2 separate regions of the Homo sapiens genome follow, and region 2 is linked to region 1. Evidence: fine-mapped expression QTL. A gene starts in region 1. The other region holds a variant in brackets. All regions are shown on one strand. Distances are between the middles of the regions. Region 1 holds the start of TEAD3 (TEA domain transcription factor 3). Region 2 has its middle 21 kb from the start of FKBP5.

The links. PIP is the estimated chance that this variant, and not a neighbour inherited with it, causes the effect.
Region 2: its variant is fine-mapped to the expression of TEAD3 in whole blood (TOPMed, PIP above 0.99).

What each region holds. Positions count from the first base shown.
Region 1 is chr6:35,493,786-35,502,061 of GRCh38, forward strand. It overlaps TEAD3 (TEA domain transcription factor 3), which reads right to left and starts at 3,294. Exons shown (of 13, transcript NM_003214.4): 1 at 3,113-3,294. TULP1 (TUB like protein 1) reads right to left here. Exons shown (of 15, transcript NM_003322.6): 14 at 6,196-6,367; 15 at 4,089-4,675. The coding sequence ends at 4,542. It overlaps LOC124901309 (a long non-coding RNA gene), which reads left to right and starts at 4,348. Exons shown (of 2, transcript XR_007059561.1): 1 at 4,348-4,422. RefSeq lists enhancers at 1,538-2,323, 3,270-4,200, 4,201-5,130 and silencers at 3,102-3,151, 3,332-3,461, 3,472-3,801.
Region 2 is chr6:35,705,188-35,715,622 of GRCh38, forward strand. It overlaps a transcript of FKBP5 not described here. Among named protein-coding and RNA genes, the nearest start is that of FKBP5, 21 kb to the left of the region's middle. The variant A/T (reference allele first, on the strand shown) is at 5,229.

The DNA.
Region 1 (8,276 bases):
CATACACACAGCATCGTGCGAGTGCGGTGTCCTTCACACGCAGGTCACTTGAGCATCAGAGCCACACCCAGTGTCATCTCCAGGTACACACAGATGGCTAGGCAGCCAGCTTCCTTCATCGGCACATCCTGGGTGATGCCCTGGCACACACAGAACATCCCCCATGCAGGTTCTCAGGTACAGAGGTGGCGGCACACCTGGACACATGAAGAGTCACCCAGTTTCTCTTATGGACGTGTATATCTGTCACACACACGAATGTCACAAAGCCACAGTTTCTCTCCTGCATACACCCAGCCCTGCACAAGTTGCTCTGACCAAGGTTCTCTTCCACACACATCCAGCCCCACAGAAGACAAGTCTCACCCACATAGAATGTCCCACTCATGGCTTCTCTCACACACATCCAGCGTCACACACAGTTGCATTCTCATTTCCCTCTAACACTTCCTGCCCTTTCAGGCCTGGCAGGGAGCACAGGAAACAATCGGCACTCTAGGAAACCCCAAGGGCTGAGGCTTTAGGGATGTGCAGGGGGATGAACCTCTCTGGCCCTAACCTCAACCTCCTGTGGGTCGGGGAAGACAGGCAGAGCCCTTTCCCTGGCAGGGTTCTCCCTGGAGGGAAGTGGCCCCTTCTGCAGACAGCCCAGGGCTGGCACAACACCAGGAGGGGAGGGGAGGGAAGGCAGGGCAAGGCCCCAGGGACAGTGCCGAGTGTGACCTGCTGACCTCCCCAGCTCTACCCAGAGGCAGATCCTCAGGGCCACCCCTGGGACCCCACAGCTTCTGCAGCCCCCATGTGGGAAGAAGAGGCTGCGACCTCCTAGCCCCTTCACAGAAAGCTGCAGCGTTTAGACCCCTGGGCTCCTCTCCCCATCCTGGGCGGGGAGGAGGAGGAGGGCAGGACCAGCGATTTCCACACTGAGCCCTGGGACCCCCACAGGTGTCTGGGAGTGGGGCAGAGGGTAGAGCCACCCAAGCGGCCTCTGAGCACCCTTTGTGCCATTCAGCCCTAACAGAACCCATGACCACTTCAGAGGCAAGATCCCCCAATCCACCAAGCCCCCCTGTCCCTTGACACCTGCCCCCCGCCACCTTTTCAGCCCTGTTCATCTGGCTGAGCTACTCCTCAGTCACCCCTTGGTTTGTCCTTGCCTTCTTCTTTGGGCCACTGGATCACCCACCCGCCTCTCCAGACCCCACCAAGTTCAGGTTCCATCATGGGAGAAGGAAGGCAAACTGGGAGACAGACTCTGGGAGGAGCTCAGAGAAAAGGGACTTGAGAAGTCATTCATTCCAAGCAGGGAAACTGAGGCCCAAAGGGGCCTGCCAAGATGGCGCAACTGGTTAAAGGTCCGGAGGGGACCAGATCCCTATTTCTTGACCACCTCTGTTGAGATATCTTCTCCTTTGATATTGTTGAGAATATCAAATCCTCCCGGTTTTAACATTCCTTCAGTTGGCAGAAAGTGCCAGGGTCTACAAACCTTTGGGTGAGGATGGGAGCAGGGCTCAGGACCCATGTGATGCTTCTGTACACTTAATGTGCTGCTCTGTCCTGGCAACCACTGACCACTCTAACAAGCCATTCCCCAGCCCAGATGCGCTCATTAGCATTAATGACGTTCCCTCCCTGGGGGGGTAGGGGAAGGCCCAAGAGCTTGGGACTCATACTGGCTCCTACCCTCTCCCTGAGGAGGGGGCATCCAGGGCCCCTGAAGTTACCCTTACTGGACAGCCTTGTCCTGGAAGATCTGTGCACTCTGCCCACTGGGTGAGCAGGGACCCAGAAGACCACAGAACCACATCCTTTAGGGAGTGCCCCTACGAGAGGGGTCTTGGTGGGAGGGGGGCTACAGGAGTCTAGAAGGGAGAGGACATAATTCCCCCAAATCTCCAACTTTTGAGGAAAGCCTCCCCTCCTTGCCCCAGGTGGCCCCAGCACTGGGGTGGAACATGTGTACAGAGAACCAGGCCACAAGAGACTGGATACGCAGAGCCGCTATGGGCACCAGCCCCTCTGAGCTGTGTCCAGCCCCTACCCCTATGCCCTGTTCTTCCGGACAACAAGTCCAGGCCTGACCTGGTTCTGCCCCTACCTGGAAAGAGGGAAGACACAGAAGAAGACAGCCCCTGAGAAGTCCGCCCCAAGGCCTCCTTCCCCCTCGCACTGAAAGAATCTCTCAGCCCTGGATCAGGGCCCCTCACCAGGAAAGTTGACAGAGCGGGGTCTCAATGACACTGCCCCAGGGCCCAGCTGGGCTGGAAAACAGATCCAGACCAGCGCTCCCAGCCCTCCCTCCCCTAGCAGGAATAAAGGGCATGACAGACAATGGTGGGGACCGGGGTAGGAAGCGGGAGACCAGCCACCCTCAAACCTTGTCAAGTCTAAACAAGGGCCCTGAGCAAGTGTGGGGAAGAAAAGGCCCCAAATCCAGACCCCTCCGAGCCAAGCTCACAGCGCTCAGGGCTGGAACTCTGAATCAGCACCCCGACGCAGGCGGCAGAACTGAAGGGAACGTGAGCCCCTCCCTGCCTCTCAGGGGACACACGGCCGGGGCGCGCGGCTTTGGTCCCAGACACCCTCCACAACCCAGCGCAGCCGCGGCACCGCGCGCAGAAACCGGCCTGGGCGCTGGGAGGCCGGGCCCGAGGCCTGCGTGGAGCTGAGGCCGGGCGGGCTCCGGGAGCGCGCGGGCCGGGAGTCCAAAGGGCGGCGGGGCCCGGGACTGGGCGCCCCGGATATGAGCTCCAGGGTGGCAGGCAGGCCCTCCACACTGTGCGGCCCCCGGATCCCCGCCCCGACCCCCCAAGCACGGACGGCGGGACAGGCGACGGCACAGGGGACACGGTCTCCCCGGCTTCCCCACCTTCCCGGACCAACTCGTCCCCGTCGCGGGGGGGTGGGGAGGGCGGGGGGCGGGGCTTCCCGGAGAGATTTTCCCCCTTCCCTCTAAACTTCCCGGCACCCCGATCCGGGGCTCCAGCTCCGGCTGGACAATAGCTCGGGGACCCAGTCCCCCTCGAGTGTCGCCCCCCCAGCCAGCCCAGCCGACCAACCAAACCACCTCTCCCGAGCGGGGCCTCCTCCCGGCGTCCGCCCGGCTTACCTGGTCCGAGCTCGCGGGGGCGCTCCGGCCGGGCCGCTCCGCCGGGCCCGAGGGAGCCGCAAGGGGGGCCGGGGAAGGGGGGTCGTGGGGAGGGGGCTGGCCGGAATGTGCGGAATGAGCCGGGCTGGAGCGGGAGGCGCCGAGCGCGGAGGAGGGAGCGAGCGGGACGGAAAGTTTGTGTTGAGGAGCCGGGGCGGGGGTGGGGGCTGCGGGAAGGAGGGGGCGGGGCGCGCAGGGGGCGGTGCTGGCCGGGAGGGGCGGGGCCGTCCAGCCGCGCTCGGGCCGCCTACCCCGCGGCCTCGCGACCCGGCCACCCCGGCTGGCGCGCGCCTGGGCGCCCCGCTCCTCGCCCGCCCGTGCGGAGCTGCCTTCCTCCCCCTGCGCTCCGGGCCTCGCCCCGCTCCCGGGCACCCGCCGGAATTTGGGGCTCCGGCCTGGGGCGGGGCCGAGGGCGGAGCCCTCGCCTCGCGGGCAGGGCTCCCGTCGGTGCCGGGGGCCGTGGGTGCCGCGTCACGAGGAGCCCGGCAGAGCCGGAGCGCACGGGCCCCGGGGCTCCCGGCCCCTCCACCCTAGTCCCGAGCCGCCAAGGCGGAGCGTACCCTCCAGCTCGCGGGCCTGCCCCCCACTCCCGGGGCCCCAGACCCGGCTCCGCCCTGGCGGCTGCGCCCGCCCTGCCGGGACCCGGTTTGTCTGGTTCTCCCCGCGTGGCTAGTTTCTCGAATTTCTTCTCCCTTTCTCCCTCTTCCCCGACCTCCGGGACCCTCCCTTTCGCCCCGGCTCCCCGGGCCCCCACGGGGGGCGTCTCGACGCTGTGCGGCCGCCGAGTTTCGGTAGGACCCGCGACGGGCGCGGGGAGGGGACGCGGGAGCGCCCGGGGCCTGGGCAGGAGTGGGACGGGGGTTGAGACTTCCAGCTCGCGCCTCGGACGCCTCCTGCCGCCTCGTTCTCCGCACGCGCTGAGGAACCACCGCTCCGCTTGGCCAAGGACGCGGCTTTATTGGGGATGTGGGTGCCTGGCCCTCGTCCCCCATCACCTACCCCCTCCTCCTAGCCCGCCCCAGCTCCTCGGAGCCCTAGCGCGGTCCCGGGGAGAGGGGAGGTTAAAACAACAATGACTACTGCTCCCGGACAGGAAGTGACTGGGGCGCGGGGAGGAGGGGGGCACAGCGGCGCAGGCGAGCTCCGAGACCAGATGTGCGGCTCCAACTCCAGATGTTCTTCATCTCCGTCCTACCCGCCGTCCGGGCTCCTCCTGCCTCGGCCTGTGCCAGGCTGGGGAGAGGACGGAGGTCACCGAGAGGCAGTGAGAGGTCAGCCCCGACACAGGAGCAGTTTTCCGCGGGAGCTTTGCTGGAGGGACCCTGCCAGCCTCCACTGAATCCTTTCCCCCACGCTGACGGGCTCTGGGGGCGCTGAGGGGCTGCTGGGGTCACTCGCAGGCCAGCTTCCCGTCGAAACTGGAGAGGGCGATGGCGAAGGCCTGCAGGGCGCACAGCGGGTACCGGTAGTCTAGGGTGAAGGCGTCCTCCGCCACGCGGCCGAACTGCAGCACGATATAGTCGGCTATGGACACAAGACGGGGTGGGGGCGGCCCGAGACCTCCTTGGACCCCCATCCTGGCAGACAGTGCCCTCAACCTTGGGGGCAGTCTGTCCCTTGCCTTGGGGCTCCAACCCTCAGCCACCATCTCAGTTACTCAACACCCATCCCTTCTTCTATCTCACTCCACACCAGCACCACGTGGCTTTGCAGTCACACTATAATCTCCTGGGGGCAGGGACCTTGCCTTTCTGCTGCTGCCACAGGCCATGCCTAGAGCCCGCACCTGATTAACTATAGGACCCTGTCAAATTTATCCAAGCCCAGCATTCTTCCTTCCCAAATTCTCTGTTGTTTCTGGCCACAGTCTTTCCTCCTATCCCCAGCCACGAAGTCCCACCTTAGACCCCAGCTCCACCCCTTGACTAGCCCCTGGTTCCCTTCCTCAGCCTCACTGGGCACCTCTCCCTTCAATGATCCAGGTTCCCAGCCCCAACCTCAGCACCTCCCCCAGGATCCATAGGGACAGGAAGTTGCTAAAAATACCCCCAAACTCAGGTGGACGAGGCTCCACCAGAAACGTGATCTGGAGAGCAGTCCCACAGCCACAGGACAGGTGGCACTGGGGGCACATCCCTAGGATGCAGTTGGGGCTCGCTCAATGTTGGTCCAACCCTGTGAACCCAGAGACTTATGGGAGATACCCTTCCATCCCCAAACTTCCTCACCCTAGTGGGAAGGAAGCCTTTCCAACCAAGGCTTGTAACAGGGACACCTTGTTTCCCTGAGTCTTCCAGGGTAGTCCTTTGACCTCACTTGAGAGAAGACACAGAGTAGGCACTCAAAAATGCTTAATATTCCCTGCCCCTAAAAGGCAACCATCTTGAAGAGATTAAGAGCATGGCCACTGGAGATCCAGACTGTCAGCTCTACCTCCTACTAGTGATGTGACCGTGGGCAAGTTGCTTAACCTCTCTGTGCCTTAGTTTCCTGCCAAATAGGGATAATAATGGCACTCTTCACAGGGACGTTGAAGGGATTTAATGATTCAGTTATCTGTAAAATCCTGAGAACAGTGCCTGGCACATAGTAAACACTGTGTAAGTTTTGTGAAATAAATTTCGAGGGCCAGTGTAACTTCCTGAAGTTGCTGAGAGACTCTGGGCAAAGGGCTGCCCTCTCTGAGCCTCAGCACTCTCTTTGAACAAAGAGGAGTTGGGCTGTCCGTGGTTTTCAGACTCTAGGAGCCAACCCTCCCTTCAACACAATCTTATCCAGAATGTCCCAGTATCTAACCCACTGCTCTGGCCAATGCTGGAATGGGAACCTGAAGTGATGAGCCCCAAGACACCTGCTTAGAATATCTGAGGCTCCTGAGAGCACAGTGTCAGTGCCTATGGAGGAGAGAGTGACCCTGTGGGATGTCCCAGCTCTCGGGATAAAGGCTGGTGTGTGTGTGTGTGAGGGGGTGAGGGGAGCTTGAATGAAGGTCAGCATCCTGGGGGTGGTGGAGAAGAGCCAGACCTGGGCCCTCAGGTACTCACGGTCATCAGCGTGGACAATCTGGAAGTTCTTGACTGAGGCCTGGGTGACCCGGCCTTGGAAGTTGAGGGTGTAGGAGCCACTGTCATCGTTCCAGACAGGTGGCTTGTTGTGCAGTTCTATGAGGCTCTCCAGCGTCTTGTTCTGCCAGCGCACCAGCAGGCCGTCACTAGCCTGGGGTGCCCCAGGGGAGTAGACAGGGAGAGGACAGTTAGAGATGGCTGAGATGGCTCAGGACTGACCGGAGAAGGGGCCTGGGCATGTGTGCACAGGGGTGTGGCCTGGACATCTTCATCCATTAGGGTATCTGAGAATAGGCTTGGCATCTGTGGCATCCTTGTGGACAGGGTTCACATCTGTGAGAATGGGGCTTTGTCTCTGGGATGTCAAAGCGGAGGGCTGGAAAATGGCAAGGGGCATCTGGCACATAGGCGCTCCATGCCATTGGTACCCAGGTGGTCTTAGGAGACAGACACACACCAGTACCTAATGACAGGATGAGCCAATCTTGGACCTGCAAAGGGCACACAGTTGAGCTGGGGAGATGGATAGGTAAATTGCAGTTAAGAGAAAGTGTACTTGGAGGAGAGTTTCTGAAAGGAAGGAGCAGGGTCTGTATAATGTGCCCTTAAGATCTTTCTTTCTTGAGTTTCCTTGTCGCCTGCTCACGTTCATGGATTAGAGTGAGTCCACTCAAGATCACCTCCAAGAAGCCTTCCTGACCCCCCATCTGATTTAGATGTCTCAGCTCTGAGTTTCCATGACACCTTGCTCTTACCATTCCTCCCACTGCACTGTAATTGGCAAAAGAGAGACCCGAAACAGCACCAGGCATTTCTTACTGGGCCCAAACAAGGGCAGGAGATGCTGCCTCTGGGGGATTTGTGTGTTTATTCCAGGCATAGGAAGGACAACTGTGGGGCCCACAGGCTGAGTGAACCCTCAAGACTGAGCCTCCCATGACTGGTGCCCTGCAGATCAGCCTGGGCCGTGACTTTCCAGCAGGGAAGGATGTGTGATCAGCTGACGGGGTATTATCTTTCATTGTAAATGAGTAAAATGACATCAGTCTCCTGTGAGGATGGGGCATGCGAGTCACCCAGAGTCTCTTAAATCCTGGACTCACTGGACCTGCAGTGCTAAAGAGCAGAGCACGGGACTGACACGTCTCTCCAGAACATCTCTCCATCTTAAACTCACACACACACACACGCAAAACAACTTTTGCTTTTTAAAATACAAGTCATGCCAAGCACAGTGGCTCACGCATATAATCCCAACACTTTGAGAAGCCGAGACGAGAGGATCACTTCAGGAATTTAAGACCAGCCTGGGCAACAAAGTGAGACCCTGGCTCTACAAAAAACTAGCCAGGTATGGTGGCATGTGCCTAGGGTCTCAGCTACATGAGAGGCTGAGGCAGGAAGCAGCACTGTTTGAAGCCAGGAGGTCGAGGCTGCAGTAAGTCATGATCATACCACTGTACTCTAGCCTGGGCTGGAGTGAGACCCAGAGTGAGACTCGGTCTCAGAAAAAAAAAAAAAAAAAAAAGGCTGGGCACAGTGGCTCAGGCCTGTAATCCTAGCACTTTGGGAGGCTGAGGCAGGTGGGTCACTTGAGGTCAGGAGTTCAAGACCAACCTGGCCATCATGGCAAAACCGCGTCTCTACTGAAAATACAAAAATTAGCTGAGCATGGTGGTATGCACCTGTAATCCCAGCTACTCGGGAGGCTGAGGCAGGAGAATCTCTTGAACCTGGGAAGTAGAGGTTGCAGTGAGTTGCGATCAGGCCATTGCACTCCAGCCTGGGTTACAGAGCGAGACTCCGTCTCAAAACAAAAACAAAAACAAAAACAAGTCATGTCACTCCTTTGCTCAAAACCCTGCTGTAGCTTCCCATTTCTCTCAGAGCAAAAATCAGTTTTAAAGACCCTGTCTACCCCTCACTTCTCTGACCTCCTCTCCCCCCAGCCACACTGGTCACCTGGTGGTTCCTCCAGTCCACCAGGGCCCCTCCTGCCACAGGACCTTTGCACTGGCTCTTCCCACTGCCCAGGTGCTCTTCCCCCAGATATCTGTAGG
Region 2 (10,435 bases), 210 kb after region 1:
AAATGCAAATATATATATATGTACAAATATATATATATATATATATATATATATATATATATATATATATATTTTTTTTTTTTTTTTTTTTTTTTTGGAGACAGTGTCTCACTCTGTCACCCAGGCTGGAGTGCAATGGCGTGATCTTGGCTCACTGCAACCTCTGCCTCCCAGGTTCAAGCAATTCTCCTGCCTCAACCTCCTGAGTAGCTGGGATTACAGGCACACACCACCATGCTCGGCTAATTTTTGTATTTTTAGTAGAGATGGGGTTACACCATGTTGGTCAGGCTGGTCTCGAACTCCTGACCTCATGATCTGCCCACTTCGGCCTCCCAAAGTGCTGGGATTACAGGCATGAGCCACTGTGCCCGGCCTGCAAATATATTTTAATTAAATCATGCAAATGAAATAATATAAAATATAGAAATAGTTCTAACTACCTATGGACATTTCAGAGCAGTGAGGAAACATTTAAGTATTCAGTACTAATGGTGGAAAAACTGATTAGCTATCTGGGGGTGAGGAGGGTGAGGGGAGCTAGGTCCTTACCTCATTTCTTACAACAAAAATACTCCAGATGAATCAAAGATCTGAAGGTAAAAGATGAAACTATAAAGATAATATAAGGGAAAATGTTGGCTAGATGCAGTGGCTCACACCTGTAATCCCAACACTTTGGGAGGCCCAGGCACATGGATCACTTGAGGCCAGGAGTTAGAGACCAGCCTTGCCAACATGGCACAACCCCGTCTCTACTAAAAATACAAAAATTATCCAGGTGTGGTGGCTTGCACCTGTAATCCCAGCTACTCGGTAGGCTGAGGCAGGAGAATCACTTGAACTGGGAGGCGGAGCTTGTAGTGAGCTGAGATGGCACCACTGCACTCCAGCCTAGGCAACAGAGCCAGACTCTGTCTCAAACAAACAAATAGTTTAGAAATACATAAGAGGGGCCAGGCGCAGTGGCTCATGCCTATAATCCCAGCACTTTGGGAGGCCGAGACGGGCAGATCACCTGAGGTCAGGAGTTCAAGACCAGCCTGGCTAATATGGTAAAACCCTGTCTCTACTAACAATACAAAAATTAGCTGTGCATGGTGGCGCATGCCTGTAATCCCAGCTAATCCGGAGGCTGAGGCAGGAGAATCACTTGAACCTAGGAGGCGGAGGTTGCAGTGAGCCAAGATTGTGCCATTGCACTCCAGCCTGGGCAACAAGAGTGAAACTCTGTCTCAAAAAAAAAAAAAAAAAAGAAAAGAAAAGAAAAAGAAAAAAGAAATACATAAGAGGATACTGCACCTCACTCATAATGAAAATTATGCAATTTAATATAATGATATGCCATTTGTATCTACTTGATTTAAAAGTTTGATAATATACAGTATAGGTAAGAATGTGGGAAACAGGGCAAAGCCATTTTCGTTTGTGGGAGTGAAGATTGTGTAACCTCTTTGTCAGACAATTTAGCAATGTTTATCAAATTTTAAAACCCACATACTCAATGACCTAATATTCCACTTCCAGGAATTCATTCTATAGCTGTACTCCTACATGTTGGCCAAACTATATATACAACGATGTTCTCTGCGGTATTTGTAACAGCAAGAAACTAAAGACAATTTGATCATCAGTAGCAGGGGATTGTTTTATTAAATTATGGCTTTGCCATTCAACATATGCAACAATTTAAAAGAATATGGTATGTATCTATGTGCTTACATAGAAAAATCTATAAAATATATTAGGTGAAAAAGCAAAGCATAGAACAGAGTATAATGGATACTCCCACTTCTACTTTTTAAAAATCTTATATGTATAGTTAAATGTAATTAAAGTCCCAGTGGAACTTTATGGAAAGATATGCAAGAAACTCTTAACGGTGGTTATGCCTAAGGGGATGGGACTGGGAATCTAGGGAGGAAAAAGGACTCGTTTTTATTGTATTTCTCTTTATATTGTTTTAAGTTTATTACCAGATACTTGAACTACTTTCATAATTCAGATCACTGGTAAGTATGAGAAGACTTTTTTTTTTTTTTTTTTGAGATGGAGTTTCACTCTTATTGCCCAGGCTGGAGTGCAATGACGTGATCTCGGCTCACCACAACCTCTGCCTCCCAGTTTCAAGCAATTCTCCTGCCTCAGCCTCCCGAGTAGCTGGGATTACAGGCATGCACCACCACGGCCGGCTAATTTTTTTTTTTTGTATTTTTAGTAGAGACGGGGTTTCTCCATGATGGGGCTGGTCTCGAACTCCTGACCTCAGGTAATCCGCCCGCCTCGGCCTCCCAAAGTGCTGGGATTACAGGCGTGAGCCACCGCGCCCGGCCATGAAAAGACTTTTGACCTAACTTGTTTTTTTAACTTTTATTTTAGGTTCAGGGGTACATGTGCAGGTTTGTAATATAGGTGAACTCATGTTAAGGGAGTTTGTTGTACAGGTTATTTTGTCATCCAGGTACTAAGTTAGCACCCAAGAGTTATTTTTTCTGATCCTCTCCCTTCTCTCTCCTCCCACCCTCCACCCTCAAGTAAGCCCCAGTATCTGTTGTTCCCCTCTTTGTGTCCATGTGTTCTCATCATTTAGCTCCTACGTACATGTGAGAACATGCGGTATTTGGTTTTCTGTTCTTGCATTAGTTTGCTAAAGATAATGGCCTCCAGCTCCATGTTCTGGCAAAGGATATGATCTCCTGACTTCTGACCTAACTTGTGATAAGAAAAATGTAAACAAAGACCATGTTATACCTGTCAGAAAGATACATCATTTTCTCCCTAGAAGACTGCTACAGTTCTGTAATACAGTAGGTCGGTCAAGGTGTGGGAAAATATTATTGGTAAGAGCAAAGATTGATGAAACTTCTTCAGAGGGAAATTTGGCAATAACTAACACAGTCTTTGACCTGATAATTCCACTTCTAGGAATTTTTCCTGCAGAAATATTCCCATATATGCCAAGGAAGTAGGTAGGTATAAAGATCTAGTTCCTTACAGCATCATTTGTACTGAGTATAAATAACTTAAGGTCTGCCAACTGGTTAAATAAATAATGGTACATTCGTACAATGGAATTCTTTTTCTTGGGACAGAGTCTCCCTCTGTCACCCAGGCTGGAGTGCAGTGGTGTGATCTCAGCTCATTGCAACCTCCACCTCTCAGGTTCAAGAGATTCTCCTGCCTCAGCCTCCTGAGTAGCTGGGATGGGTGTGCACCACCACGCCTGGGTAATTTTTGTATATATAGTAGAGGTGGGCTTTCACCATGTTGGCCAGGCTGGTCTCAAACTCCTGACCTCAGGTGATCTACCCACCTTGGCCTCCCAAAGTGCTGGGATTACAAGCATGAGCCATTGCGCCTGGCCTTGTACAATGGAATTCTATATAGCATTTTTTTTTTTAATGAGGCAAATCTATGTATACTTGTAACAGAGATTGTTAGTTGTGCCCCAGTATCCATTCTTCTCTTCCCCTCTGATTTTTGAGCTGGGTATATGGCTATTTGGAATAAAGAATAAATTTCCCAGCCTCCTTTGCTGGTAGGTGTGCCCCTGTGTTCTTGTTAATGTTTTTGTTTGTTTGTTTGTTTGTTTTGCTGGATAGATGCAGATGTAATGGCAGGAGCTCAGACAGCCATATTGAAACATGAGGTAGAAGCCCCATGTTGAAGATGGCATAAAAATGACAGAAGGATCCTAGGTCCCTGATAATTATGGAATCCTGGTATTGCCTGGCCACTTACCTTTGGACTTCATTAGAGAGAGAAATCAATGTCTAATTTTGCAAGACACTGATATTTTTAATTTTCTTTCACTAGCAGCCAAACCTAATCTTAACTGATAGATATTATATTAGTCTGTTTTCACGCTGCTGATAAAGACATACCTGAGACTGGGCAAGTTACTAAAGAAAGAAGTTTAATTGGACTTACAGTTCTGCATAGCTGGGGAGGCCTCACAATCATGATGGAAGGCAAGGAGGAGCAAATCACATCTTACGTGGATATTGGCAGGCGAAGAGTGCTTGCACGGGAAAACTCCCCCTTATAGAACCATTGGATCTCGTGAGACTTATTCACTATTATGAGAACAGCATGGGAAAGACCTGCCCCCATGATTCAATTACCTCCTACTGGGTCCAAACCATATCACATATAATGATGTGGAATGATTTCTAAGATAAATTGTTAAATGCAAAAGCAAGGTGCAAGCAATGCATACAGTATGATACTATTTTTGGAAAAAAGTGCAGAAAGATATAACTATGTTCGCATATGGGCAACATTTTCCAGAAGTATATACTGTTTGAATTTTTCACCATGTGCAAATATAACTTATTCAAAAGTGAACTTTTAAAAATCAGTTTTAAACTAATTAAAAAATGATTTGTATTTCTAAACCATAACAATTTGATTTTTTAGAAATCAACATAGTTTGATGAAACTATGGTTGTTTTTTCTTTTCTTTCTTGTTTTCTATATTTGCAGGATTTTAAGATATTTACATGCAAAATAGAACAGTCCCAGACAATAAAAATAACTTATGCTTTAAATATTTCTGATTTGATGTCATGCAAACGCTTTCATTCCCAGGACCCCAAAGGTCAATATGTTGAACATACACTTTAGACTTGCAAGTCCATTCAGCAATATATATTGTGCATCTATGATCTTTAAAGCACTGCTTTTAGGTAAAAAAAAAAACAGACAAGAGATGTTTGTTCATGGAGCTGATGTTCTCACGGGACAAACAGGGTAATGCGATAAAAAGTCTTGAGAATTCCATTAGAGAGGGTAGTGAGGGAAGACCTCTGAGGAGGCAACATTTGTGCTAAGGCCCAAAAGATGAGAATTCCAGGAAATGATCCTAGCACATGCAGAAACAGAAGGATGCTCAGAGCAGTTGTGGAAGAACAAGGGGCAGGAAGAGTAGCTTCAGAAAAGGTAGCAGGGCAGCATCTGTGTGCTTCAGCGAGAGATCCTCTGCACCTAACCAGAAGTGCAAAACATAGGGCTGGGCGCAGTGGTTCATGCCTGTAATCCCAGCTCTTTGGGAGGCTGAGGTAGGAGGATTGCTTGAGCCCAGGAGTTCGAGACCAGCCTGGACAACATAGGAAACCCAGTCTCTACAAAACATAAAACAATTAACTGGGCATGGTGGTGTGCCTGCAGTTCCAGCTACTCAGTGGGAGGATCACCTGAGCCCAGGGAGGTTGAGGCTATAGTGAGTC[A/T]TGATTGCACAACTACACTCCAACCTGCGCTACAGAGTGAGATCTTGTCTCAAAAAAAAAAAGGTGTGAAAAATAAAAAGCCAATGATACCAAGAGCTGGTCAAAATGTGGAACAGTTGGAACTGTCATACTTTGCTGGTGAGAACATACAGTCACTTTGGAACACAGTTTAGCAGTTTTCTTTTGAAGTTAAGCATACACACATTTGCCATACGACTCAGCAATTCTGCTCCCAAGACAAATAAAAACATGTGTCCTCAAAAGGAGCTGTAGAAGAGTGTTCACAGCAACTTTTTCATAATAGCCCAAAATGACAAACAACCATAATGTCCATCAACAGGAGAATGAATAAACAAACTATGGTATAACCATCTAGTGGAATACAATACAGCAATAAAAAGGAACACACTACTTAATATGTGCAAAAACACGAACAAATCTTATAAACATTAAGTTGAGCAAAAGAAGCCAAGATACAAAAGAGTATATACTGTGTGACTCCATTTATGTAAAATTCTAGAAAATATAAATCTAATCTATACTGGTAGAAAGCAGACTGGACCGGGTAGGGATGGGCCCTTGCTTGGGCCAGGTAGCGATTGATTGCAAAAAGAAACAAACACAGCCAGTGCAGTGGCTCATGCCCGTAATCCCATCACTTTGGGAGGCTGAGGTAGGCAGATGGCTTGAGTCCGCGAAGTCAAGACCAGCTTGGGCAACATGGTGAAACTCTGTTTCTACAAAAAGAAAAAAAAGCCAAGAGTGGTGGCTCGCACCTGTAGTCCCAGCTACTTGGGAGGCTGAAGTGAGAGGATCACTTGAGTCTGGGAAGTTGAGGCTGCAGTGAGCCATGATCTCGCCACTGCACTCCAGCCTGGGCGACAAAGTCCCTGTCTCAAAAGAAAAAAAAAAAAAAAAGAAGGCCGGGAGCTGTGGGTCATGCTGTAATCCTAACAGTTTGGGAGGCCAAGGTGGGTGCATCACCTGAGGTCAGGAGTTCAAGACCAGCCTGGCCAACATGGTGAAACCCTGTCTCTACTAAAAATACAAAAATTAGCTGGGCTTGGTGGCGGGTGCCTGTAATCCCAGCTACTCAGGAGGCTGAGGCAGGAGAATTGCTCGAACCCGGGAGGTGAAGGCTACAGTGAGCTGAGGCCGTGCCACTGTGCTCCAGCCTGGGCAACAGAGCAAGACTCCACTTCAAAAAAAAGGAGAGGAGAGGAGAGGAGAGGAAAGGAAAGAAAGAAAAGAAAAAGAAACAGGGAAGCTTTTAGAGTGGAGGAATTAATCTATATTGTGATAGACATTACACAGGTAAACATTTGTCAAAACTCATCAAACTGTACACTTAAATGGGTGCATTTTATCATAAGTAAATTATGCGCATGTAAAGTTGATTTAAAACACACAGTGTGTGTGTGTACTTACTAGTCTGGTACATTATGTTTCTACTTCTGTCTGTTTTTTTGTTTTTGTTTTTTGAGACAGTCTCGCTCTATCGCCCAGGCTAGAGTGCAGTGGTGCAATCATAGTTCACTGTAACCTTGAACTCCTGGCTCATGATCCTCCTACTTAAGCCTCCCAAGTTGCTGGGACTACAGGTGTGTACAATCGCACTGGGCTAATTAAAAAAAAAAAAAAAAAAGTAGAAACAGCGTGTCCCTATGTCGCCCAGGCTGGCCTCAAACTTCTGGGCTCAAGCAATCCTCCCGCCTCAGCCTCCCAAAGTGCTGGGATTATAGGCATGAGCCACACCTGGCCTCTCTGTATTTTCTAGAAAATAGCTTGCGAATAATTGTTTGTTACCCGCTCTCTTTTTTCCCTTTATCCCCTGCGCCAAAGTGAATTAAGCCTGTCACCTGGAATTTCTAACTATTAAGGCCAACTCCATCATCTCAACCCTTGCCACAGAGTTGTTTGTTTGTTTCCATTTTACAGGGGAATCTTAGAGAAGGCTTTTGCAGAATGGGAGGTGTCAGGAGAAAGCCCCAGAAGGGGGTAAGGAGGGTAAGGGGTGGTAGGTATCTTCCAGGGAGATATGCCTGGAAGTTCAAAGAGAAGCATTGAGACCCTTATGGTTTGCTAAGGAAGAGCTAGTTGGGCCTGGCACTAGGAAAGGGCCCAGGCTTTGTTTTGTAAGCCAGTTCTCTCACTACCTGCCCCTTCACAGCAAGGAGCCAGATTTGTCTACCATCCTGTCCTAGTTCTCAGAGATCCGAGGGCTGTCATTGCATAGCTAGATCCTGCTTTCACCCTGTCATGCAAACCGCCAACAGGTATCTCCCAAGCCTGGCAACATGCAGGGTGGTAAGCTGGCTACCCTCAGGGAGATGCTGAGGCACCAGTGCCTTGTCTTCTGAGACTCACTTCTGATGGCAGGAACTGGGCTGACCCTAGAACTGAAGCTGGCCGTGTGGCCTGGGCACTCCCCAAAACTACTTAGTAAACCTTCATCACAGTTTTGCTTTCCTGTTCAGGTCCTGTGGGCACAAAGCAAAACTAATTTTATCCCAAAGCCAGGTGTGGTGGTGGGTGCCTGTAGTCCCAGCTACTCGGGAGGCTGAGGTGGGAGGATCACTTGAGCCCTGGAGGTTAAGGCTGCAGTGAGCCGTGATCACGCTACTGCACTCCAGCCCAGGCGACAATGCAAGATCTGGTCTCTAAAAAAAAAAAAAAAAAAAAAAAAAAGAAGAAGAAGAAAGAAAGAAAAAAATCTTATAACATGAAGCCAGTATTAGTAGAGTGGGCATAAGCGGGTGGGGCAAAAAGAGGGGAGTGACTCCTTGGGGCATGTGGTGAGTGAGGAGGATGTGGCTCAGGTCAATGGGAGCCACACTTGTTGGGGGAACCTTAGGACTAGAATGAGGCAGCAGCCAAGGCCAAATCCTGTGGCCTAGAAGAGGGACAGCCCAATGGAATTTTGCCTCATTATGAAGACCGTTGGCTCCAGTGACAATATTAGCTAATGTCTACTAGGCACTTAATGAAGCTGGTGGTCTAGATGGTCTAAGGTGCCTTCACTAATTTAATCTCCAACAACAACCTTATGAGGTAGACACTACCACCCTTTGACAGTTAAGGAAATGAAGGCACAGAGGTTTTAAAAGACCTACCCTTCTAGCAAGCAGCACAGCTGTGACATATGCTCTAAGTCACAGCACCTCTCAGAAGTCAGTGTAGGAGGCTGAAGCTGCTAGCTGGCGGGTGGGGGCCCAAGGAGCAGCAAACGCTCCTGCCCTGGGGATTCTCCTGTGAGCTTTTTCCCAGACTTAAATGCTCAATTTGCATAAAGGGTAGCAGAGAATGTAAAAAGCAGCCACTTGTCCAAAACTGTGCAGCCACCCAGAAGGGTTGTGACCTGCCTCTCCGGACTCACACCCTCACATCCTCTCTCCCCTGCCTTCTTGCCCCACCTGTCCAACTACTAAGCCTTGGGGTCCAAATATTTTCTTGACTTCCTGCCCTTCTCCCTTCCCTCTGATTGTCAAAATCTGTCAAGACTCAGCCCAAATCTCACCTCTTCCAGAAATCCCTCACAGACATCCCTGATTGGAACAATTCTGTCCCCAGCCCATCCACTGAGATGTGAGGCTCTTTCAACTGAGGCCTGGGGTCACTTCTCAGGGGGTCTGTCTCCCTGGGGGCATAAAACCACAGGGCTTGCTTAGTAAGGAGCTGACACCCACCCATGGTTAAGCAGGTCCTTAAGGGGTTATGAGGACATCTCTCTTTACTGACTTGAAAAATCTTAGGCGGCCAGGCACAGTGGCTCACACCTGTAATCCCAGCACTTTGGGAGGCTGAGGTGGGTGGATCACCTGAGGTCAGGAGTTCAAGACCAGCCTGGCCAACATGGTGAAACCCCGTCTCTACTAAAAATACAAAAATTAGCCGGGCGTGGTGGCATGTGCCTGTAATCCCAGCTACTCAGGAGGCTGAGGCAGGAGAATTGCTTGAACCCAGGAGGCAGTGGTTGCAGTGAGCCGAGATGGAGACATTGCACTTCAGCCTGGGTGACAAGAGCGAAACACTGCCTCAAAAAAAAAAAAAAAGAAAAGAAAAACAAGATGTATAGGATTTTACTCTCAAAATGTATTTTCTTCAAAATACTCTGTGTTCTGCTGGGTGTGGTGGCTCACGCCTGTAATCACAGCACTTTGGGAGGCCAAGGTGGGCAGATCACCTGAGGTCAGGAGTTTGAGACCAGCCTGGCCAACATGACAAAACCCCATCTCTACTAAAAATACAAAAATTAGCTGAGCATGGTGGCGGGAGCCTGTAATCCCAGCTACTTGGGAGGCTGAGGCATGAGAATCGCTTGAACCTGGGAGATGGAGGTTGCAGTGAGCTATCGTGCCATTGCACTCCAGCCTAGGCAACAAGAGTGAAACTCTGTCTCAAAAAAAAAAAAAAAATTCTGTGTTCTATAAAAATAAAATAGGTTTAGCGTGGCAGATGTCTTACATAAATGAAGGTGAGCCCTACTTCTTCATTCCATTAAATTTATTTATTAATTTTTTTAATTTGGAAAGAAAAGGCTGGAGTGTAGTCGCACGATGTCGGCTCACTGCAACCTCCACCTCCTGGGTTCAAGCGATTCTCCTGCTTTAGCCTCCCAAGTCTATAGGTGCATGCCACCACGCCTGCGTAATTTTTGTATTTTCAGTAGAGACAGGTTTTCACCATGTTGGCCAGGCTGCTCTTGAACTCCTGGCCTCAGGTGATCCACCCGCCTTGGCCTCCCAAAGTGCTGGGATTACAGGTGTGAGCCACTGCTCCTGGCATTCCATTAAATGTTAATGAGTCCATTCATTTATTCATTTCACAGCATCTTCAGCCAAACTGGCTGTGAGTAAATCCCACTCCGCCACTTACTAGGCACGTCAGCTTAGGTCAATTGGTTACTTCATCTCTCCGTGTATCATTTTTCCCAACTAGAAGATGGAGATGATAATGATAGTACCTATCAAGGTTGTTATGAGGCTTAAACAAGCTTATATATATATGCTTGTTTATATATATGTATGTGCAAAGTAATCAGAACAGTGCCATTATTGCCAGCACTATTATAAAATGTGTTCCAATAGAGACAAAGAGGGCCCCCCTCAGTCTAGAAAGATTTGGAGTTCCTTGCTAGGTCAAGGAGGAAAGGGCATCCAGGCAGCAGGAACGGCATGTACAAAGGCTCAGAGGTGTACACCAGTACA